Linked DNA regions of Homo sapiens. The protein of the gene in region 2 interacts with the protein of the main gene of each other region in a biochemical or structural test. Each region holds a gene or a part of one and is shown on either strand. Other genes may lie near its edges.

Region 1 (7,000 bases), on a different chromosome or scaffold from region 2:
GTCATCTGGAGGTGCAGATCTTAGCGGACCAATATGGCAATGCTATCTCTTTGTTTGGTCGTGATTGCTCTGTACAACGCAGGCATCAGAAGATTATTGAAGAAGCACCTGCTACTATTGCTACTCCAGCAGTATTTGAACACATGGAACAGGTACATATATTAAAAGGCTTACTTTATGTTTTCTTACATAGAACATTTTTCATTCAGTTCATGTACCAATCTGAGAACAATGGCATTTTAAGCAACGATTCTGAATAATTAATAAAATTATATCCTTTTCTTAGAGAAAAAAAATTCTACTGTTCTCCCACTAAGAGAATTGTCAAGGAACATGTCAAGCTTCTAAAAGTAGTTAACGCTTTCTAAAAAAAATCAGCGTACCATTTCAGGATACAGGGATAAAGAAGAGAAATGTTTTGGAATTTTTAATCTTATGATTGATTTTTTTAAGAGGCTCATAATCAGGTAGTTTTATTTGCTGGGTTGAGTATCATCAAGTCTTCAGCTGAATTTAATCAACTCTATTATCGTTTTTGGAAAGTCCTCTAAATATCTTCAGAGTTCACACATTCTATCTTTTTGTATAGAAAGTAGTTTCTCAAAGTCATGAGCGATGCCTTCGGAATAACTATAGTTTAGAGGCCTGAACATAGTCTTTTCTGGAGTCCTAACCCAGTCTCTACATCAAAATAGATTCTTCAAAATATATTTCATGTGTGTTAGAGGTCTATTTCCTATGTTGTGTATATATTAGGATGTACTCTTGAACTGCTGTAATAAAGATGCCTTCAAAATACAGTGGCTTGGCCGGGCATGGTGGCTCTTGCCTGTAATCCTAGCACTTTGGGAGGCTAAGGCGGACAGATCACTTGAGCCCTGGAATTCGAGACCGGCCTGGGCAATATGGTGAAACCCTATCTCTACTAAAAATACAAAAATTAGCTGAGTGTCATGGCACACGTCTGTACTCTCAGCTGCTTGGGAGGCTGAGGTGGGAGGATCACTTGACACTGGGAGGTCAAAGCTGCAGTGAGCCTTGATCATGCTACTGCACTCCAACCTGGGTGACAGAGCAAGACCCCATCTCAAAACAAATAAATAAATAAGCAAAATACGGTGGCTTAAACAAGGTGTAAGTTTCTATTTCTCTTTCATCATAGTTCAGAGATGAGCTGTTACCAGAAACAGGTTTATTGCTCACCTGTTGCCTGTTTTTGTAAATAAAATTTTGTTGGAACACAATGATGCTTATTTATTTATGTGTTATTTATGGCTGCTTTATCACTACAATGGTAGAATTGAATAGTTGTGACAGAGGCTATATGGCCCACAAAATTGAAAATAATTACTATCTGGCTCTTTACCAAAAAAGTTTGCCAAACTTTGCTCTTGGACATTGTCATCTTCATGATTAAGCTAACTCACACAAGATTATGTTCACATTGTGGCCTGTGGGAGGAAGAGACAGGGGATGTGGAGGGCAAGCATATGGAAGCATGATCTTGAAGTCACATACATCACTTCTGCTCACATTCCACTGGACAAAATTCAGTTACACAATTATACCTAGCACAAAGGATGTTAGGAATTGTGATCACTAACTGGGTGACCATGTGCTCAGCAAAAATTTCGATTTTATTCCTAAAATGATGAAGTAGAGAAAAGTCACTGGAGGGCATTTCATAATCTGTGCCTCAGTCTGTTCCTCTGGCTACCTATTATCCCTTTATCCTTTTTCCTACTTTCAGAGCACACATAGCCTTTGTCCAAGGAAGACAACCTGAAGCCCCATCCAGTTACTAGTAACTGGATGGGTTATTACTGGAGGTGATTCCGGATCTCTATATGATGTATATTCTTCTCCATTAGATATGTATTGTGGCTTTTCATGGGCCAGTGACTCAAAATACAAGTTATTTACCCAGTATTATATCCCCTGCCTTCACCATACACCCATATACAATGATGGAATAGGAACAGGATAACTCTCATTTGGAAAAATGAAAAATACATAGCAATCGTTGGTCCATAGCAGTTATCAAATCCTCCTTTTTAGGTAGGAATTGCAATGATTCCCTGCTATATAATAGAATACTACCTCAGTTAGACCTGGCTGTCCCTGGTTCTGCTACTGCACACTCCAGAGAAGTGCAATAAGGGAGTAAATCCCTTGTTCATTGTCCTTCAAGACACCTGACATTGTTTTCTGGGAAGTTCTTCCTCATTCAGTTTTCTCTGTGAGTTGGGCTTTGGAGACTATGCCTTCTTTGGCAGAACTTTCACAACCCACTTCCTGCTGGTGCAGGATTGAGGGCACAAATATCCCAATCATCAGTCGCAGGCTTTTGAAGGCCAGGTTTGTGGTTTGTTTAGAAATACAATTCCTTCAAATACTTAACTAAGCTTCTGGGCTATTTGCTTGCAATCAGCTTTGGGTTGGATTAATCATACTCATAGATTTCTTCTAGATATAGAAACTTTTCTTCTATTATTTACTGGCTTCTGTGCTTAGCCTATCTCTCTTGCCTTGATTTAATATTGGCTATCTTGGGGCCAGCTGAAACTAAAGCAGCACGTTTGATCTTTGACACTGAGTTGCTTCAGGGTGATAATCTCATTTTCTGTTTGGGGGGATACAAAAGAAGTTGGCTTTTTCGACACTCTGACCCTTTCAGACCATCTTTTTTAAGGTTTAGTTGGTGTGTGGTCAGTATCCCAAGTTATTGTAGGAAACAGTTTACCAAATGTTGTGTTATCCCAACAAGGAGATTATCACCTTTCCAGCCTGCAGTATCTGTTTCTCTGCTACCCACTACCCTTTTGCTAAGCTAGCATCTCATATTTTAATATTTTTAAACAGCAACATTCTACCTGCACTTAATAATTCCTGTATCGATTAGGATACAGGTTAAACTGCTATAACAAAAAGGTCCAAAAAACACAGCGGACCCCCCCAAAAATAGAAGTTTATTTTTCTCTCCCATCCTAGTCTGAGGTGAGCTTTTCAGGGCTGGTGGAAGTGTTTTATTCCACGAGACCATCTTGGGATTCAGGTTCATTCTTTCTTTTCTTTTTCTTTCTTTTCTTTTCCTTTCTTTTCTTGGTGTTCTTAGTGTGTTCTCATTTGCATGATTGAAGTTGGCTTATACTATCATGACTATGTTCCAATGAATAAGAAGGAAAAAGCCAGGAATAGAGAATGAGACATTTCCTTTTCAAAATATGACTTAGGGCTGGGTGCTGTGGCTCACGCCTATAATCCCAGCACTTTAGGAGGCTGAGGTGGGCGGATCACCTGAGATCAAGAGTTCGAGACCAGCCTGGCCAACATGATGAAAACCCATCTCTACTAAAGATATAAAAATTAGCCTGACATGGTGGCATGTGCCTGTGATCCCAGCTACTCAGGAGGCTGAGGTAGGAGAATCACTTGAATCCGAGAGGCGGAGGTTACAGTGAGCCGAGATTGCGCCACTGTGCTCCATCCTGGGTGGGTGACAAAGCGAGACTCCATCTCCAAAAAAAAAAAAAAAAAAAATATATATATATATATATATATATATATATATATATATATATATATATGACTTGGGAGTTATGCATATCACTTACCAATGCTGGTGTCCTGTTTGTCAAAACTTAGCCACTAACCAGGCCAGGCATGGTGGCTCACGCCTGTAATCCCAGCACTTTGGTAGGCCAAGGCGAGTAGATCACTTGAGGTCAGGAGTTTGAGACCAGGCTGGCCAACATGGGGAAACCCCATCTCTACCAAAAATACAAAAATTAGCCAGGCATGGTGGCGCATGCCTGTAATCTCAGCTACTTGGGGGGCTGAGGCAGGAGAATCACTTGAACCCGGGAGGCAGAGTTTGCAGTGAGCCACGAGATTGTGCCACTGGACTCCAGCCCAGGAGACAGAGTGAGACTCTGTCTCAAAAAAAAAAAAAAAAATCTAGTCTCTAACTAGTTAGCTATGTTTCTAGGAAGAAGAGGAGCATATTGGAAATACTGGAAACTGGACAAGAGTCTGTCCCCATGTTTTTTTGTCTGCATGCATTTATGTCTGGTGGGGTGAGGTTGCTTTTGATGCAAAGTGAAAAATGCTCTTTTCTCCCGATTTTTCATTGAGTTTTTCATCCTTGTCCAGGGATATTGTATAATAATCAGAAATGTGCTCTCATGTGGCTAAAAGCTTTTGATGGCTCTTATACACACTGAACAGTTGAGTCAGTGAGAGGCTGTAGTGGTCTAGCAGTTGGATAAGGTGAGATACTTATGTTTGCTTATCTCTCTTCTTTGAGTGTGCGGTGAAACTTGCCAAAATGGTGGGTTATGTGAGTGCTGGGACTGTGGAATACCTGTACAGCCAGGATGGCAGCTTCTACTTTCTGGAATTGAATCCTCGGCTGCAGGTAGAGCACCCTTGTACAGAGATGGTGGCTGATGTCAATCTCCCTGCAGCACAGCTCCAGGTGAGTCTCCCTGATCTGGGTTGCAGAGCCTAGAAAAGTCAGAGAGGCCTGAAAAATGGGTTTAACCAGTGTGTGATAAGAGAAAAGCACCTCCTATCTGAGTCACACCTAATGGTCATTTCTCTTTCACCCTGTATGTGTTATGCATGTGTGGTTTGGTTTTCCTGATGTAGTACAGACATAGGAATGTTATTTTTTCTAGCCAGACACATCTGATATAATGTGTCATGTTTTAGAAATAAATGTTAATAATGTATGCTTTATTCAATTATTTAGCTATAGTAAACTTCACAACTTTGTATTATAATTATTCCCTACTCATTTTTGTTTTTTTACTAGTGTTCTTTATTGAAATAATTCTGCATCAGAGATTAGTGGTTGAAGTTTTTCCTTACAAGAGTGTGGTAGCACACATATATTTTTATAATTTGTAAAGTGCTTGCTGTCAATATTATTGTCTTCTCTCAGCCCAGGAAACAAATATTATGGAAAGCAGTAATAGTTAATGATAAGGCTTGATATTATTTTTATCTAACATTTGCCCACATCGAGAACACCTTCTGGGTTCCTATTAAAGACTAAAGATTTACTTACTTCCTCCAGTGGTTTGCAGGGATGGAAGAGATAATTATGACACAATTAAGACTTTCTAGCTGTCTGTTTTTGGATGGCTATTAACATTTACTCCTCTGTTGGATATTTTCATTCTTATTACGTGATGGAGAAATGACAACAGGGGAACTGGTGTCTGTTGCATTAGGAATGTGGGGACTTCTTTAGAAGTGGAGAATATTCTAACTACTTATCTGTAGTGATATATTGTATTTCAAGCAACTTAGAGTTGATGATTGTAGAATACAGGTTATAAAAATAGAATGTTTTAGGGAGTGGCTCCAAAAATAAAAATATTTTAGGTTATCTGATAGCCTCTACACTTTAAGGGAAGTAACTGAAAAATTAAAGATGTGTGTTTTATTACCTTTCAGATTGCCATGGGGATTCCTCTATATAGAATCAAGGATATCCGTATGATGTATGGGGTATCTCCCTGGGGTGATTCTCCCATTGATTTTGAAGATTCTGCACACGTTCCTTGTCCAAGGGGCCATGTTATTGCTGCTCGGATCACTAGTGAAAATCCAGATGAGGTAACCCATCACTTAAAAGGTTTATACCTCCTTTTAATGAACTTTAATGTTAAGATAGTATCTGAAAGTATACTTCTGAAATATCTTGGGACTTCCTCTGGAGTGGGAAACATAGAGGTTTCTCAGAGCAGATAAGTAAATGGTTGTTGCTTCATTGGTTACTTAATCCCACTTAAGTCACTGTAGAGTCTTCAGTGGGTCTGTGGCACTGGGTCTTGGCCTTTATCATTTTTGTGTGTCTTCTCTGCTTCTGTGTGTGATTAACAGAGAACTTAAACAATGAATATATAAATCTTCTCTTCCTTCGAAACATAATATGGTCTCTCATTCTTTATTCTCTAACAGGGTTTTAAGCCCAGCTCAGGAACAGTTCAGGAGCTAAATTTCCGCAGCAATAAGAATGTTTGGGGATATTTCAGTGTTGCTGCTGCAGGGGGACTTCATGAATTTGCTGATTCTCAGTTTGGTCACTGCTTTTCTTGGGGAGAAAACAGAGAAGAGGCAATTTCGTGAGTATAATAGCATTTGATTGCATTTTACAAAATAAATTTGTGCTAATCTTAAGTGAAGGTGTGAGCATGGGAATAGGAATCATCTGCTGTCAAAGTAATAATATGAACAACCTTTTTGAAGAAATTTTGAATATCTTTAATTACACTTGCATTCATGTTGTATTAAATTATGCAGTGCTTGGCAGATGTTTTTCTGTTTGTTGTTCTGAGCCTTTTGAAGTATTTTTCCTTTCAAATATTTTTGATAAATGTATAAAATTGATTGCTTTAAAGGTATCTTATTTTTCCACAGGAACAGTATTGTTATTGAGGGGAGGTAGATTCTTGGCCAAGAACTAGGTATCAAATAAATCATAGACTTTTATTTTATTTTTTTCTTGTGAGAAGACTTAAAATCTATTAGCAATTTTCAAGTACACAATCTATTGTTATGAGCCATAGTCACCATGATGTACTCTTATAGTTATTTAAAATAATAAAATTATACTGCTCATATTATGAAAAGGACATAAAGAAACTGTCTACATTGCTAATACAAGAGACCTTAGCATGCTGTATATAACAGCTTATGCAAATATAACTGCTATATCATAAATGTTAGATAATATTCTGTTAATCATAAACAATGAATATTAAATTAACAGCACTTTTGCTTGCCTAAAACATAGGGCTGAAGGAGGTAATTTTAACAGCTTAGATCTTTTGGAATATCTATCTAAAATTGAAACTTGAACTAGTTCTTTTCTGTTTTTTAATGGTTTATTGCCTTGTATCAAACATTTAATACCATTCCCTTTACCTTTGTACTGTACATGGAGTAGGTAATTAATAAGTGTTTATTAGTATTAATTACTAATAAATAG
Region 2 (8,479 bases):
AAACTGATGGCAGCACTGCTTTCATATTTAGCATATAATACTATAGTGGCATTAATAATTCAGCAGATACAGAAATTTTTTTTTCCATTCCTGATTTTGTTGATTCAGAGTGGTAGAAGCTTTGTAAAATATAAATTCTGATTCTTTTTCAACTTTGTCTAATTTAAATTTCCCTGTCTTCTGCTGAGTATAAAATAAATGGGTCTAGGTTTGTGAATTTGCTTTTTTAAAATTAAAAAATAACCTGCTGAAACTATTCAGAAATATACCTCAATTAGGGCATTTTTTTAAAAAAGAATGTGTGAACATGTTTAAAATTAACCTTTACCATAATTAAGCTTGGTAGAAATAGAAATTATTGATAATGATAACTCATAAAATTAAGCTTATTAAATAATATTACTTGGGACAAGTACTATGCTTCATTAACTTTAACATTTTTCTTCTTTTCCTTTCTTTGGCTCTTTATTGGACAGTGAGTTTTTACTGTGAGAGATGCTTAGGAAGAGCATTATAATTTTTTGTTTTACTCTAAAGCTCATCCATGTATTTTATTTTGAATGGCTACTGTGTGCTACATACCAGAAGAAACTGGTTTCTTTCCATCTGAGATTTTATCTGGCTTCTTATAAGCTGGTAGATCTAGGAAATGCTATACTTCTTAATATTTAGCAGTTTTTATCTCCACTTTTACAAAATTTAAGAATATTTTAAAGATTAGTAATTTATAATTTTATGAATTTACTTCTTTTAATATTCTATAATTTTCAGATCAAGTTATTAGTCAAGATAAATATACTCAATCCATTTTGAATGCTTTTCCAGATTATGCTTTCTTCATTTAAAGGTTCATGTTTATTTAAGGGTATCATAAATATTTAGTAGACTGAGATCTATAAACTGATATGTATCACTGACCTAACAAATATATATTGGGAATCAACTTTGTTCCTATGAGAGATCTGTATCTATAATAATACTTATTTAGTTTATACATAATTAAAACCTTTATTGTGATTTAGGAATGAATCAAGATATATTTTCTAGAGTGTATAAACCAGAAGTTGCCTAGGAAATGGCTGCAATTTAAAGTTCTTAAAATAATGCAACTCCTCATATGTGTGTTTTCAATCTTGCTATATATTTTAAGAGAGCTGATATTTTCCCTTATGTTTACTTTGAGCAATTAGTAATTATAAATATCCATTTATAAGTATAAATTTATCTGTGTTTCTAAATTGTACTTAGTGTTCTGATTTCTGGATTTGATGTCTAGTGTATACTATTTTCTGTAATAGATATAATTTAAAACACAATAATAAGAACAGCATTAGAATAGAAATCAGTACCATTCTTCTAGTTTTCTTAGAACATCACATACCAACAGTCAAGTGCTTTTATTGAAATACAGTTAGTAGCAATTAGCTTAAATTTTGGCTTTTCATAGATTGAAACTGTTAAAGCCCAGTTGATCCCAATGTTTTTGGATAGTGGTAGTATTTTTAGTGCCACGAGAGAGTCACCTATTTTATGTAAAAGTTTGCTTATTGAATTACCAGATATATGACATCATAGTGTAGTAATACTGGATTAGTAATTCATAATAAAAACTTTGTCCCAGGTTTCACAAAGACCACCAGAATAACTGAATAAATAAGCTTAAGTCTCTGCTCCAGTTTTTCCTTTTTTGAATTGGGTTACCTGCCCCAATTCCATGTTCTAATGATTCAGTTCTCTTATTTTTAAATTTTAATAATGAAAAAAATTAATGATTACTGTAATTAAAAATGTCAGGTTTTCTTTCTAAAATCGATAAGCCTATTTATAACAATACTTTATTCAGACATTAAAAAAATTAAAAGCCACTCTTTATTGCACATTTACAATATATTTGACCATCTCCTACTTAAATGAATCACTAAATTACATTTTGGACCATGCATTGCTCTTTTAGACTACTAAAAGTCGGTAAATTTTTCATGTCTTCTGGTGATTAATCCTTCAATCTGGAAAGTGTTTATAGCTAGCTAAAGTGTTTATTGGTAGGGATTAGTCTCATGATTTGTATTTAGTATTCTGTTTATAATAATTTAAAATGTTGTACTAATTAGATCTGTACAAAAAGAATAGTCAGTTTTCTTGGTACTAGAAAGGGATATAAGTAGTGACAATTAGAAACCAAAACTGAATATACCCTGCTAGATTAGTTCCCAGAGAATATGGTTTATCTTTAATACATATAATTTGCCTGAGAATAAGTGGTGATTGACTAAATATTTTATCAGTAAAGATAATATCTACCTAGATTATCATTTCTTTTTGTATTTTTACTATTTTTAAGTGGAGAGAAAACTTCAGTTTTTTACAATCAAAATAAGTATTAAAGTGATATTATAAAATCAGAGCCCCAAATCCTAACCCAAGAACAACTATGAAATTAATAGTGCATTGTTGCTAAGTGCTGGGTAGGTTAGCTCTTGAATAAAGTTTAGTTTGTTACATGAAAAACATTAATAAATAAATTCATTATTCTCAGGCTTTCTATAAACATCAACAATTTGTATAATGCAACATTAAAAAAACTTCAAAGCACATTTAAAAATGTTTAAGCAATTGTTATTTACATCATTTATGATTGGTCAATTGTAGTAAGGTATGAAATTCCTAAAACGGAAAGAAAAAATAGCAAAGAAAGCAGAAAACAATGAATCCAATGACCCAGTTCACTGAATAAATATATATGATCACCATATCCATGTCAAACCACCATCCACGGCTATCATCCTCAAAGTGCAGGTAATCCATCCTGTGTGCACCGTGTGGGAACTGCCTTCTTGTAACTGGAGCTGCATGTCTGCGGAAACCTAGAAGATGTATGAACATATTAAAGCCCATTAAATTCAAGCTAGTGCTCAGAAAAGAAGCTGTACACAAGTACAGTTAAACAAAGCATATCCTGATTTCACTGAGCGGAGTTATGTTGTATTCCTGACAGTTTTTTCTTTTTTTTTTATTATTATTATACTTTAAGTTTTAGGGTACATGTGCACAATGTGCAGGTTAGTTACATATGTATACATGTGCCATGCTAGTGTGCTGCACCTATTAACTCATCATTTAGCATTAGGTATGTCTCCCAATGCTATCCCTTCCCACTCGCCCCACCCCACAACAGTCCCCAGAGTGTGATGTTCCCCTTCCTGTGTCCATGTGTTCTCACTGTTCGATTCCCATCTATAAGTGAGAACATGCGGTGTTTGGTTTTTTGTCCTTGCGAGAGTTTACTGAGAATGATGATTTCCTATTTCATCCATGTCCCCACAAAGGACATGAACTCATCATTTTTTATGGCTGCATAGTATTCCATGGTGTATATGTGCCACATTTTCTTAATCCAATCTATCATTGTTGGACATTTGGGTTGGTTCCAAGTCTTTGCTATTGTGAATAGTGCCGCAATAAACATACGTGTGCACGTGTCTTTATAGCAGCATGATTTATAGTTCTTTGGGTATATACCCAGTAATGGGATGGCTGGGTCAAATGGTATTTCTAGTTCCAGATCCCTGAGGACTCGCCACACTGACTTCCACAATGGTTGAACTAGTTTACAGTCCCACCAACAGTGTAAAAGTGTTCCTATTTCTCCACATCCTCTCCAGCACCTGTTGTTTCCTGACTTTTTAATGACTGCCATTCTAACTGGTGTGAGATGGTATCTCATTGTGGTTTTGATTTGCATTTCTCTGATGGCCAGTGATGATGAGCATTTTTTCATGTGTCTTTTGGCTGCATAAATGTCTTCTTTTGAGAATTGTCTGTTCATATCCTTTGCCCATTTTTGATGGGGTTGTTTGTTTTTTTCTTGTAAATTTGTTTGAGTCCATTGTAGATTCTGGATATTAGCCCTTTGTCAGATGAGTAGCCTCTTCTAGTTCAGTGCATTAAAGGCAGGGTAGCAAAGAACACAGGATATGAAGTCAGGAGATTTGCCTAGGTCTGCCACTTGGCTGGGGCAAGTCATTTAACTCTTTTGGTCATGAATTTCTCATCTATACTATCTGATTTCTTCAAAAATTTGTGGGGATCAAATGTAATTATTTTCAAGAGAATATTTTCTAAATTTATCATGTTTTATTTTTACAACTGCTTTTATAACTTCTGATCACCAACTTAACCTTGTATCTTATACTTTGAGAATTTCATTCAGTTTAGTTCTTTGAGCAAAGTTCTAAGAAGAATATCTTATTTTAGCATCGAATAAACTAGACAGACATAATGATACTCCTTTAAAGAAATTTAGCTTTAATTTCCATAGAGTTCAAAGCATGGGGATTTGTTGGTACAGAAAAAGCAAATCTTGAAAGTCAACTATAGTCTACTTATTACTAAATGAATATGACATTTCTGAGAAATATTACATCATGAAATACAATTTTCTTTTGTGTATTTACATGCTAATTAGAGCTTGAGAAAAAACCTGCTCAATAGCAACTTGTTTTTTTTGGTTGACCAATATATAAACTCAGTCATTTAAAAAACAAAATTCAATTCTCTGAAGACTGATAACCTATTAATCTTTTGCTTTTTACTTATCTGCTTTCTACTTTAAGTATTTCTGTGTTTATTCATGTTAGGGAACAGGGACAGCATAATAAACTAGGCAGAAAAATGTAATTCTGGTACTCACTAGCAACTATGGTGATAAAAGTTCTGTGAAGCTCTAGCCTGAAGCAAACTCTGGTTCACTCATTATAACAATTGAGTAATGTTAAATATTCTCTAGGTCAGGCTGCTTATTCTGATGGCAAGGTTGCATTTACCTGGGTATTAGTATGCTCATTTAAAGTCAAATCTCTTTAATCAAGAACTATCCTATTTTTTATGTATTAAGTTTATTTGGAAATTATATTTACTTACGTAGGTTCAAAACATGAAATTTAAAAAGATAAACATGAAATAAGTGATATTTAAACAGAATTTGTAGAGCTACATTTCAAATAGGTTTTTAAATAATTTCTAATTGATCTTGGCTGACTTTCTATCATATCTGATTTGATTTAAAAACTTTTTTTACTGCTACACAATATTTGTACATTTTAATGGAGTATATGTAATATTTTATTGTTTATCTTTGTAGTCTGGTGGTTTTCTATAGTGGTATCCTGTGTATTTTTTCTCTTGTATGTTTGTTCTACCATTTGGGTTTTACTTTCATGTGTTTTCATGATATCATTCTTTTGCTTCCAGGTATAGGACTCCCCTAAGCATTTCCTACAGAGCCAGTCTGGTGGTGATGAATTCCATCAGCATTTCCTTGTCTGGAAAAGGCATTATTTATCCTTCAATTCTGAAGGAAAACTTTGTCAGGTATAATATCCTTGGCTGCCATTTTTTTCTTCAGCACTTTGAATATGTCATTCTATTCTCTGGCCTGTAAGGTTTCTACTAAGAAATCCAATGTTTTCTGATTGGGGTTCCCTTGTAAGTGACTAGATACTTTTCCTGTTCTAAAAATTCTATCTTTGACTCTTGATAGTTTGGCCATATGTACCATGGAGGAAACCTTTTTGCAGTATGTCTATTTGGGGATTTCTGAGCTTCCTGTATCTTGATATGTAAATAAATTTCTAGCCTTGCAAAGTTCTCATCTATTATTTCATTAAATATGTTTCCTATCCCTTTCGTTTTCACTTCATCTCTGGGACACCAAAAATTTGAATATTTGATCACTTTATGGTGTCCCATATGTCACACAGGCTTTGTTCATCCTTTTAAAATTCTTTTTTTCTTTATTTTTGTCTGACTGGGTTATTTCAAGAGACCTGTCTTAAAGTTCTGACATTTTTTCTTCTGCTTTATCTAAACTGTTACTGAAGTGCTTAAATATATTTTGTATTTCATTTACTGAAAGAGATGGGGAGAGAAGCAACTTGGAAAACATATTACAGGAGATCATCCACGAGAACTCCTCCAACCTAGCTATAGAGGCCAACATTCAAATCCAGCGAATACAAAATATTTAGTAAGAAGGTTATCCCCAAGGCACATAATCATAACATTCTCCAGGGTGGAAATGAAATAAAAAGTGTTAAAGGCAGCTAGAGAGAAAGACCACCTACAAAGTGTAGTCCATCAGACTAACAGTGGACCTCTCAGCAGAAACCTTACAAGCCAGAAGAGATTGGGGGTCTATATTCAACATTCTTAAAAGAAATTCAACCACGAATTTCATATATGGCCAAACTAAACTTCATAAGCAAAGGAGAAATAATATCCTTTTCAGACAAACAAATACTGAGGGAATTTGTCACCACTATACCAGCCTTATAAGATCTCCTGAAAGATGCATTAAATATGGAAAGGAAAGACTGTTATCACCCACTGCAAAAACTCTAAGTTCACAGACCAGTGACACTATAAAGCAACCATAAAAACAGGTTGGCATAATAAACAACTAACAACATAACAGGATCAAATCCACATATATCAATATTAACCTTGAATGTAAATATGCTAAATACCAGTTAAAAAAAGGCACAGCTTGGCAAGCTGTATAAAGAACCAAGATCCAATGGTATGCTGTCTTCAAGAGACTCATCTTACATGCAATGACACCTATAAGCTCAAAATAAAGGGATGGAGAAAAATCTATCAAGCAAATGGAAAGCATAAAAAAGCAGGGGTTGCAATCATAGTTTCACAAAGACTTTAAACCAACAAAGATAAAAAAAGACAAAGAGGGGCATTACATAACGGTAAAGAGTTCAATTCCATAAGAATACTTAACCTAAATATATATGCACCCAACACAAGAGCACCCAGATTCATAAAGCAAGCTCTTAGAGACCTTCAAAGAGACACAGACTCCCTCACACTAATAGTGGGAGCCATCAACACCCCACTGAAAGTACTAGATCACTGAGGAGGGAAATTAACAAAGATATTCGGGACCTGAACTTGACACTTGACCAAATGGACAGAACTCTCAACCCCCAAACAACAGAATATACATTCTTGTCATTGCCACATGGCATATACTCTAAAATTGACCACACAATTGAACATAAAACAGTTCCCAGAAAATTAAAACTGAAATCAAAACATCCACACCCCTGGACCACAGTGCAATAAAAACAGAATCCAATAAGAAGAGGTCCCAAAACTATATATTTACATGGAAATTAAACAACCTGCTTCTGAATGACTTTTGGGCAAATAATGAAATTAAGGCAAAAATCAAGAAGCTCTTTGAAACTAATGAGAAGAGTTAAAAGGGAAACTTACAGCACTAAACACCCACATCAAAAAGTTAGAAAGATCTGAAATTAACAGCCTAACATTACAACTAGAGAAGCAAGAGCAAACCAACCCCAAAGCTAGAAGACAAGAAATAATCAATATCAAAGCTGAACTGAAGGAGACAGACACAAAAAGCATTCAAAAGATCAACAAAACCAAAAGCTGTTTTTTTTTTTGAAAAAATTAAGACAGGCCACTAGCTAGACTAGTAAATAATAAAAGAGAAGATCCAAGTAAACAATCAGAAACAACAAAGGGGATATTACACCACTGACTCCACAGAAATACAAGTAACCATTAGAGAATATTACGGACACTTGTATGCATACAAACTAGAAAATCTACAACAAATGGACAAACTCCTGGACACATATACCCTCCCAAGACTGAACCAGAAAGAAATTGAATCCCTAAAGAAAACAATAATGACCTCTGAAATTGAATCAGTAATAGCCTATCAACCAAAAAAATTCCAGGACCAGACTGATTCACAGCCAAATTCTGTAAGATATACAAAGAATGCTGGTACCATTCCCACTGAAACTATTCCAAAATAATTGAGGAGAGACTCCTTCCCAACGCATTCTATGAGGCCAACATCATCCTGATAGCAAAGCCTTGCAGAGACACAAGAACAAAAAAATAAAACTTCAGGCCAATGTCCTTGACAAACATCGATGCAAAAATCCACAACATAATACTGGCAAATTGAATTTATCAGCACATCAAAAAGCGAGTCCACCACAAACAAGTAGGCTTTATCCCTGGGATTCAAGTGTAGTTCAATGTATGTGGATCAATAAATGTGATTTGTCACATAAACAGAACTAAAGACAATAACCATCATCTCAATAGATGCAGAAAAGGCTTTCAATAAAATTCAACATTGTTTCATGTTAACTCTCAACCAACTAGGCATTGAAGGAATACACCTCAATAATAAGGGCCATCTATGACAACACCACAGCCAACATCATACTGAATCGGCAAAAGCTGGAAGCATTCCCCTTGAAAAACATAAGACAAGGATGCCCTCTGTAACCACTCTTATTTGACAAGCATTGGAAGTCCTGGACAGAGCAATCAGGCAAGAGAAAGAAAGAAAGAGCATCCAAATAGGAAGAGAGGAAGTCAAACTATCCCTGTTTGCAGACAACATGATTCTATATCTAGATAG
Region 3 (6,860 bases), on a different chromosome or scaffold from region 2:
ACCGCCTTCCCGCCCGACAGTCCTGCTCATTTATTTCGTATTTTACTTTCTTCCAGGCTGACGTCCATCTCCTCAAATTTCTCAGGAATGTGGGGAAGCTCCTAGCCCTGCCTGCCTTTCTAGAGGGCTTCTTGGATTTGCAGCTTCTAACAAGTTGCTCTCGCCACGGAGAAGCTGTTATTATGACAAAATATTTGGGGCATTATCAAAATCACACAGGCTGCTGGGCTGCTGTCGGTTTCTCGCCAGGGCCAGTAAGCAATTACATTTGGAGTTGCTACGTGTTGTTTGGGGGCCGGGCTGTGGAGAGTGACTGAGCCAGTATTTTTCATCCAAAATTCTGCAAATTGAATTAACCACAATTCTAGTCTCACCTCCCGTCTTTAAAAAAATAAGTTGAAGAAAAGGTAAATATTAGAGATAAGGCAGCATCTAGTGACTGCGGAGAGGCACAAGCTGGTGGGCGAGGGTTGGGGGAGTCAGCAAAGCCTTTCAAAACCTCCCCGTTTAATTTTCTGGCTGTCTCTGCATCCTGTTGCCAGAATTCCAAATGCTTGGAGTCATTTAGAGGTGCGAGAACTCAAACGTCGTTCCACTTGGAAAGGGGACCGTTTAACGTTAAATTCCATTAGCACCTAAATTGTTTCTTAAAGACATCCGCTCAGACACAGGACTCGAAAGCGAGCATTTCATGCAAATAAATTTCTCAAATTTTAAACCTTGTTAAAAGCTTGTCTCGCACCTCGGCTCCCTCCCTTCCCGGAAGAGAACAATAGGCCGCTGGCGCATCCCCACTTCGGAGTAAATATTGACGGGGGAAGTTGCTAAAACATTTGGCTTTCTTTTAGGAAATCGTCTGGCACGATTTTGGCTGAGACCTGGTCATAGATGAATAATCTATGAGGCGGGAGGCGCGTTCTTTTGCGGCTCTCTCTTCTCACGCGATCCCCCCGCGGGGCCGCGCTGCCTGGGGCTCTAGCTGACCTGGGGCTCTAGCTGACCTGGGTCCAAGTTGGGAATCGCAAACTCTGTGGTGCCCATTAGAGAATTTCACAAACTGCTGCGAAACCACAGTAAAGCCCCCGCGACCCACCCCGAGACGGGCTTTAAAAACACTTTAAAAATGAGAAACGCATTACAGCTTCGGCTCACACCAGACTCATTTCATGGGAAACAGTCCCGGGAAGGGCGTTTGGACCCCGAGTAAAAGAAGTGGGAAAACACACAAACCACTCAGACAGACATACACTCCGAGCAGAAAAGCACATTCAGACAAGCTGGCAAAATCCTCTCTAGGCTCGCTTCCCGGGCACCGAATTAGCGAGCAGTTTTATTTTGTGCTTTCTACTTAAAACGGAAATTATTAACCGGGGCTGAGCAAACGAAGCAATTGCATGACCCAAGCATACATTTGATGTGAGGCTAATCATTCAAAACTCGATTTCCGCACATGGAAAAACCTAGCCCAATAATATTGTCATCGTCCAACAGAAACAAGCTGCTGGCTCTTTCGTACACGCAAAAACACCTCCCATCCCAGGTCCCCGGCTGGCGGTCTGCGCCCAGCGTCGGCACCCACAGCCTGAGTCTCAGCCTGTGCGTGTCTCCCCTCCGCGCCTGGTCCCTGTCCCAGCCCGCGGTTACCTGTGTGGGTCCTTTTGTGGATCTTGAGGTTCTCGGAGCGCGCGAAGACTTTGCCACAGCCCGGGAAGGGGCAGGGGAAGGGTTTCTCGCCTGTGTGCACGCGGATGTGGTTGACCAGTTTGTATTTGGCCTTGAAGGGCTTGCCCTCGCGCGGACACTCCTCCCAGAAGCAGACGTGGTTGCTCTGCTCCGGGCCGCCGACGTGCTCCACCGAGACGTGTGTCACCAGCTCGTGCATGGTGCTGAAAGTTTTGTTGCAGCTCTTCTTGGGATTGCTCAGTTGCTCGGGGTCGATCCACTTGCAGATTAGCTCCTGCTTGATGCACTGCTGCCGCATATAGCGGAAAAAGGCACCGGGGTGGTGGTGGTGGTGGTGGTGGTGGTGGGCCGCGGCTGCTGCCATGTTCATACCCATGTTCATATTCATGGGGCCGTACTGGTTGTGGAGTTGCGCCGCCGAGTAGGGGTCGGTCCGCGGGCTGGCCACCTGGCGGTATTGCTCCGAGCGCCCGAACACCTCGCCGGGCAGCCCGAGGCGCATCTGCCCGTTGAGCACATTCTGCGAGCCGTGCGGCCCGTGCTGCTCTGGCAGGCCCGGGAAGAGGAGGTGGCCCTGCGCGTCCGAGTGCGCGTGGTGCAGGCCGCCCGCGCCCGGCCCGAACAGCCCGTGCTGCCCGCCGCCCGGCGCCGAGTCCCCGAAGCCGCGGCTGCGGAACAGGAAGTCCCGGGTGGAGTTGAAGGGCGGCCCAGAGTAGGAGCCAACGTGCGCGGCGTGGGGCCCGAGCGCTGCGGCCGCAGCGGCAGCCGCAGCGGAGCCGGGGTAGGCGCCGGGGCCCTGCGACGTGAACGCCGAGCTCTGGCCCGGGGACAGCTCGTGCGCGCCCGGGTTGAGCTTGAAGGCTCCCATGTGCGCGGCGGCGGAGTCAACGAAGCCGTTCTGCGCCGCCGCCAGGCTCAGTTCACGGTCCTGCATCTCGGCGGCAGCCGCCGCCGCCGCCGCGGCGGAGTGGTGATGGTGGCGCGCGAAGCTGCCCACCCCGATGGCCGGGAACTGCGGACCCGCGTCCAGGAGCATGGCCAGCGCGCCCGCCCGCCCCTGCGAGCCCTGCGCCTCCGCGCCGCCTCGACTCCCGCTCCCGATCCGCGCGGTGCGTCCGGCGGCCACCGGGCTCCAGGCGCAGGCGGCGGTGGTGGCGGCCACTTCAGCCCTGGGAGCCGCTCTCCTGCGCCCGCCGCCTCCGCCGCCGCCTGGATCTGCCTCGGGCGGCCGGGCGCGTAGCGAAGGCGCGGAGAGGAAGAGGAGGAGGAGGCGGCGGCGCGGGAGGAGGAGGAGGAGGTGGAGGAGGAGAAGAGTCCAAAGCCAGGCGGAGAACCAAAGTGTATTAAAGGAGCTGCGGCGGGGGCGGGCGGGCAGGGCAGGGGAGGGCGGGCGGGAGGAGGGAGCCGGAGGGAGGTGTGGGGAGCCGAGAGGAGAGGGGGGCTACCGGGGGGCGAGCGCCGCGCCGCAGCCCCCACCCCTGCGCGCACCCGCGCGCGCACGCACACACTCACTCGCACGCCCAGCGGACCCGGAGCCCGGCCGCACCGAGCAGCGCCGGTAGAATGCAGTCACAACCGCGGCGGCCGTGCGCACGCCAGGCAGACGGGCGAGGAGAGGACCGAGGCGAGCTCCGCGCTCGGCACCCGGGGCCAGCGCACCAGCGGCTCCACCTGACCGCGGCGGGGGCGCCGGGGCGGCAGGCGGAGTCCAGGCGTCCTCTCCGCGGCGCTCTGCGGCGACAGCTCCCTCCCCCGCGGCCCTACTCGCGCCGCCCCGCGCGCGGCGGTTATTGTTCGGAGCCGCGGCCGCAGTGTTTAGCCCTCCTCGGCCTCGGCGCTTGGCATTGGCTGCGCCTCGCGTAGTAAACTTGCAGTGGCCACGAATTTCCCCAGATGAAGGCAGCAGCCGCGCCGCTCCCCCTTTCTTTAAGTTGTGCCGGAGGAGGAGGCGGGGGAGTAGGGGGGAGGGGGATGTGGGAGGGGAGAAAGCGAGCAGGGGGAGGGGAGGAGGGGGAGGCTGGGCTGAAAAACAATAACAACAATAAAAAAGTGATCTCTCGCTCGCCTCCTCCCTCCCGCCGGTCGGGCCTGGGCGCTGGGCCCGGAACTAGTGACCGCGCCGCGTGGACCCAGCGCAGTCCGCGACCCGAGGGAGTGTGAGGCCCAGGCGGGCTCCCAGGTCTCGGCTGCGGTGGGCTGCGTTCGCCACCGCCTCCGTTGATTTCGATGGGCGCCGCCAACGCTGCAGCGGCAGCCTTTTATTTTTTATTTTTTGTCTCCTCCTTTTCCTCTCCCCTCCCCCCGCACCCCCTAGTCTCCCGCCCCGGCCTCCCTCCCTCCCTCCAGCTCGAGGCCGGGCCCCCCCGGTCAAACCGCCCCTTTAACGGCGGCTCCCGCCCCGCCCGCCCTCCCGGCGCCGCGATTGGCCGCCGCGGCCTAGTCAGTCCCGCGCCCCCGCCCCGCTGCCGGGCCCGCCCCTCAGTCCTCGCGCTCCCTGAGCTGCTGCCGGCTCAGGCAGCCGCCGAACGTGCCCGTGGGCCCGGCCTGCCATCCTGCCGCGCTTCTCCCGAGACCTCGGCGCCGCGGCTTCTAGTCCTGGCCGACCGCGGCGCTCCCGGGAGCCGGGCGTCCAGCGTGGCTCGGACGCGGGCCCGGGCCGCGGGGTCAGGGCGCCCTCAGCCGGGTCAGGAATGGGAGGCAACCCAGCGCTCCAGTCTTTCTGCGTAGGCCACCGACTTCCCCGGGATCTGAGCAGCTCCCAGCGGACACCGAAAACCCCGGGGACGCCTGGCCCGAGCACTCCAGGCCGCTCGAGAGGTGGCTAACAGCTGGGTCGCCTGGCAGGAGGCTCTGCGCGCGGGGACATTTCAGGCCCGGGGCCTCGCCGGGAGCGCGCCACAAGGAGCGGCGGGGGGCTGGTCTGCTGCCCGCTTGGCACGCTCCCTACTTTCACCCCGCCTTTGTAAACTTGCTCTGTGGCATTGAAACCACAGGTGCAGGACCGTGGGCACAGAGAAAGCCAGGCATGCCCCTTCTTCCCACCCTCCGGACGCCCACCCAGACACCGCCTTCCCCGCCCCCCGCGGCGTCCCCGTCCGCCCCTCGGCGCGCTGAGCTCCCCACCCGCCGCTTGCGTCCTGCTCCGTTTACAGCAGTAAACACTGGGCAGCGGCCCCTGCGTGGAAGGGGGTTGTTCGGAAGTCGTTTAAAGACAGTGTCACCCTCAGGGTAAATGCCCAGAAGCCGGGCCGCGCATCCTTGGGCTGAGAAGTGTGGGAACGCCCGAGACCAAGCGAGACTCAGGCCGGAGTTTGGCTGCGGGTCAGGCTCAGGGTCTCGGGAGAAGAAGCCGTCAGACACGGCAGGGCTTAAACCTTCTAGAAAGCATATATATCCATCCACTCCTTCTCCAGGAGCAGGGAGTACCACCCGGGCGGTGGCCCAGCGGCGAGGCCGCTCCCGGCGCCGCGCCTGGCTGACCGCTGCGGACGTTTCCTGTCCCGCCGCCCAAATCTCGCGCTCCCGAGGTAACTAGAGAGGGAACGGAGGGCCCAGAGGCTGCGGAGGTGTGAAGGGACAGCCTGAGGCCAGCGCCTCGGGCGTGTTCTCCTGGCTGGCCTGGAGAACTGCTTTTATTTATAAATCTCTAGGAGTTGAAATAAAATTAAACGAAGAGAAAATAATAAATTTTTCAGAATTATGTTCTGAAATGAAATAAACAAAAACGCGGGAAGAATCCTCTAGCTCACTATGGCTGGCAGAACCCGGGCTCTCTTGCGCCGGCTCAGGCAGCCTCTCCCGGCTTAAGCGAGTCTCTGCAGGTTGGCGCTGGCCGCAGCCCCTTGCATAAGGAGCCCTGTGCCCTCCCTCCGTCCCATTCTTCCCTGTCCTGGGGGTGGGGTGGGGGTGCAAGAAGGAGGCAGGCTGTGGCATCCTGTCTGAAAGCAAGGCAGTTTGCCTGGAAGATGGAGATTCTCACCTTCCCTGAAAGGAGGAAACGTTCCCATTTCCACACCCCTCTCTCTGTGCATAAAAGGGGGCGGAGGGCACTAGCCAAACTGGCCCCCTAGACCTAAAGGGACCTGAGACATAGACGCAGAGAGAAAAGAGAACATCTTTGGCAGAAAGGCTGCCCTGCCACGTTGAATCCATTAAAAATTGCCTAGTGCAATTTTTGTACTACACACTTGTTTGCTTTATTCATCAATTTTTATGGGAATGGGAGGCGAGCACGAGAGGAGAGTATTTGGAAGGGCTTACTCCAAAAATATTTCCGAAGGAAAATGTTTTCTTGGAGATTGGTTATGAGAATAGCAGACCTGCACATGCAGAGACCTCACTTCCCTTCCTTCTTTCAGGCCATCAGACTTCGAAGTTTTCCTCCTTTCCCACTGTCTTACCCCCTCCCCAGTCCTCCCTCCCTCTCCTCTTTGACCCATTCTCTCTTTCGCTTTGATTTCGCCTTTGCTGCTCCCGCGTTTGGGGATCGCGCGGCTGGGCGCTCGCTCGCGCCGGATTCCAGGGGCCGCGCGCGGCCGGGCGGTGGGGCGGACGCCTTAATTCCCGCCGGAGACCCTACGGGTTGGGCGCTCCTGGCTATTCTTTCCCGGCTCTAGTTCTCCTCTCTCTGCAGGGCACAGAAGAGCTGAGCCAAGTTCAAAGTCACGTCGCCGTCCCTTCTCAGAAGTGCTTTATTTCTCTACAAACCGCAAAACCCCTTTACTTCATGACTTTTTTTTTTTAAGGAAGGAAAGTGAAGAGAGAGCTAGAGAGACCAAGGGGAAAAAAAAAAGCATGCAAAGGCTTTCAGAGTTACTGCCTTAAAAGTAGACTCGGGTTCCTTGGCTGAAGGAAAAAAGCGGCCAAGCGGCGTTATGCACAGTGTGAGTGAATTCAGTTTTTCAACAGGTTTCTGGAAGGGCCCGTCTGTGGCAGTGTCAGGGCCGCAGGACCCACAACTGTCTCCATCCGGCAAACAAGTCCCCTCTTTGTAAATTTCCCAAAACTATGCTTCCGAAATCTTACGGAGGCTGCGTGCGACTGGGCGGCAGGCCGGGGCTTGAGCGGATCCAGCTCAGGGCCGCGGGGGCCAGTGTTCATTTCTCGGCAAGTAGAGGGAATGGCAGCGCGATGGAGAATTGGGGTTGTCTTCAAAAACCAGAAAATCCCGCCAAACA

What was found.
Region 1: of the proteins of RNF180 (region 2) and ACACA, one has a biochemical effect on the other in vitro, tested with the Homo sapiens proteins (one study listed by BioGRID).
Region 3: the proteins of RNF180 (region 2) and ZIC2 form a complex in vitro, tested with the Homo sapiens proteins (one study listed by BioGRID).

The regions. Positions count from the first base shown.
Region 1 is NC_000017.11:37,256,837-37,263,836, reverse strand, and holds part of ACACA (acetyl-CoA carboxylase 1), read left to right. Parts: coding exon 1-152; intron 153-4,306; coding exon 4,307-4,477; intron 4,478-5,463; coding exon 5,464-5,625; intron 5,626-5,970; coding exon 5,971-6,134; intron 6,135-7,000. UniProt on the Homo sapiens protein: Cytosolic enzyme that catalyzes the carboxylation of acetyl-CoA to malonyl-CoA, the first and rate-limiting step of de novo fatty acid biosynthesis.
Region 2 is NC_000005.10:64,364,000-64,372,478, reverse strand, and holds part of RNF180 (E3 ubiquitin-protein ligase RNF180), read right to left. Parts: intron 2,865-8,479; coding exon 2,665-2,864; 3' UTR 1-2,664.
Region 3 is NC_000013.11:99,977,924-99,984,783, reverse strand, and holds the start of ZIC2 (zinc finger protein ZIC 2), read right to left. Parts: upstream 3,001-6,860; 5' UTR 2,720-3,000; coding exon 1,645-2,719; intron 1-1,644. UniProt on the Homo sapiens protein: Acts as a transcriptional activator or repressor. Plays important roles in the early stage of organogenesis of the CNS.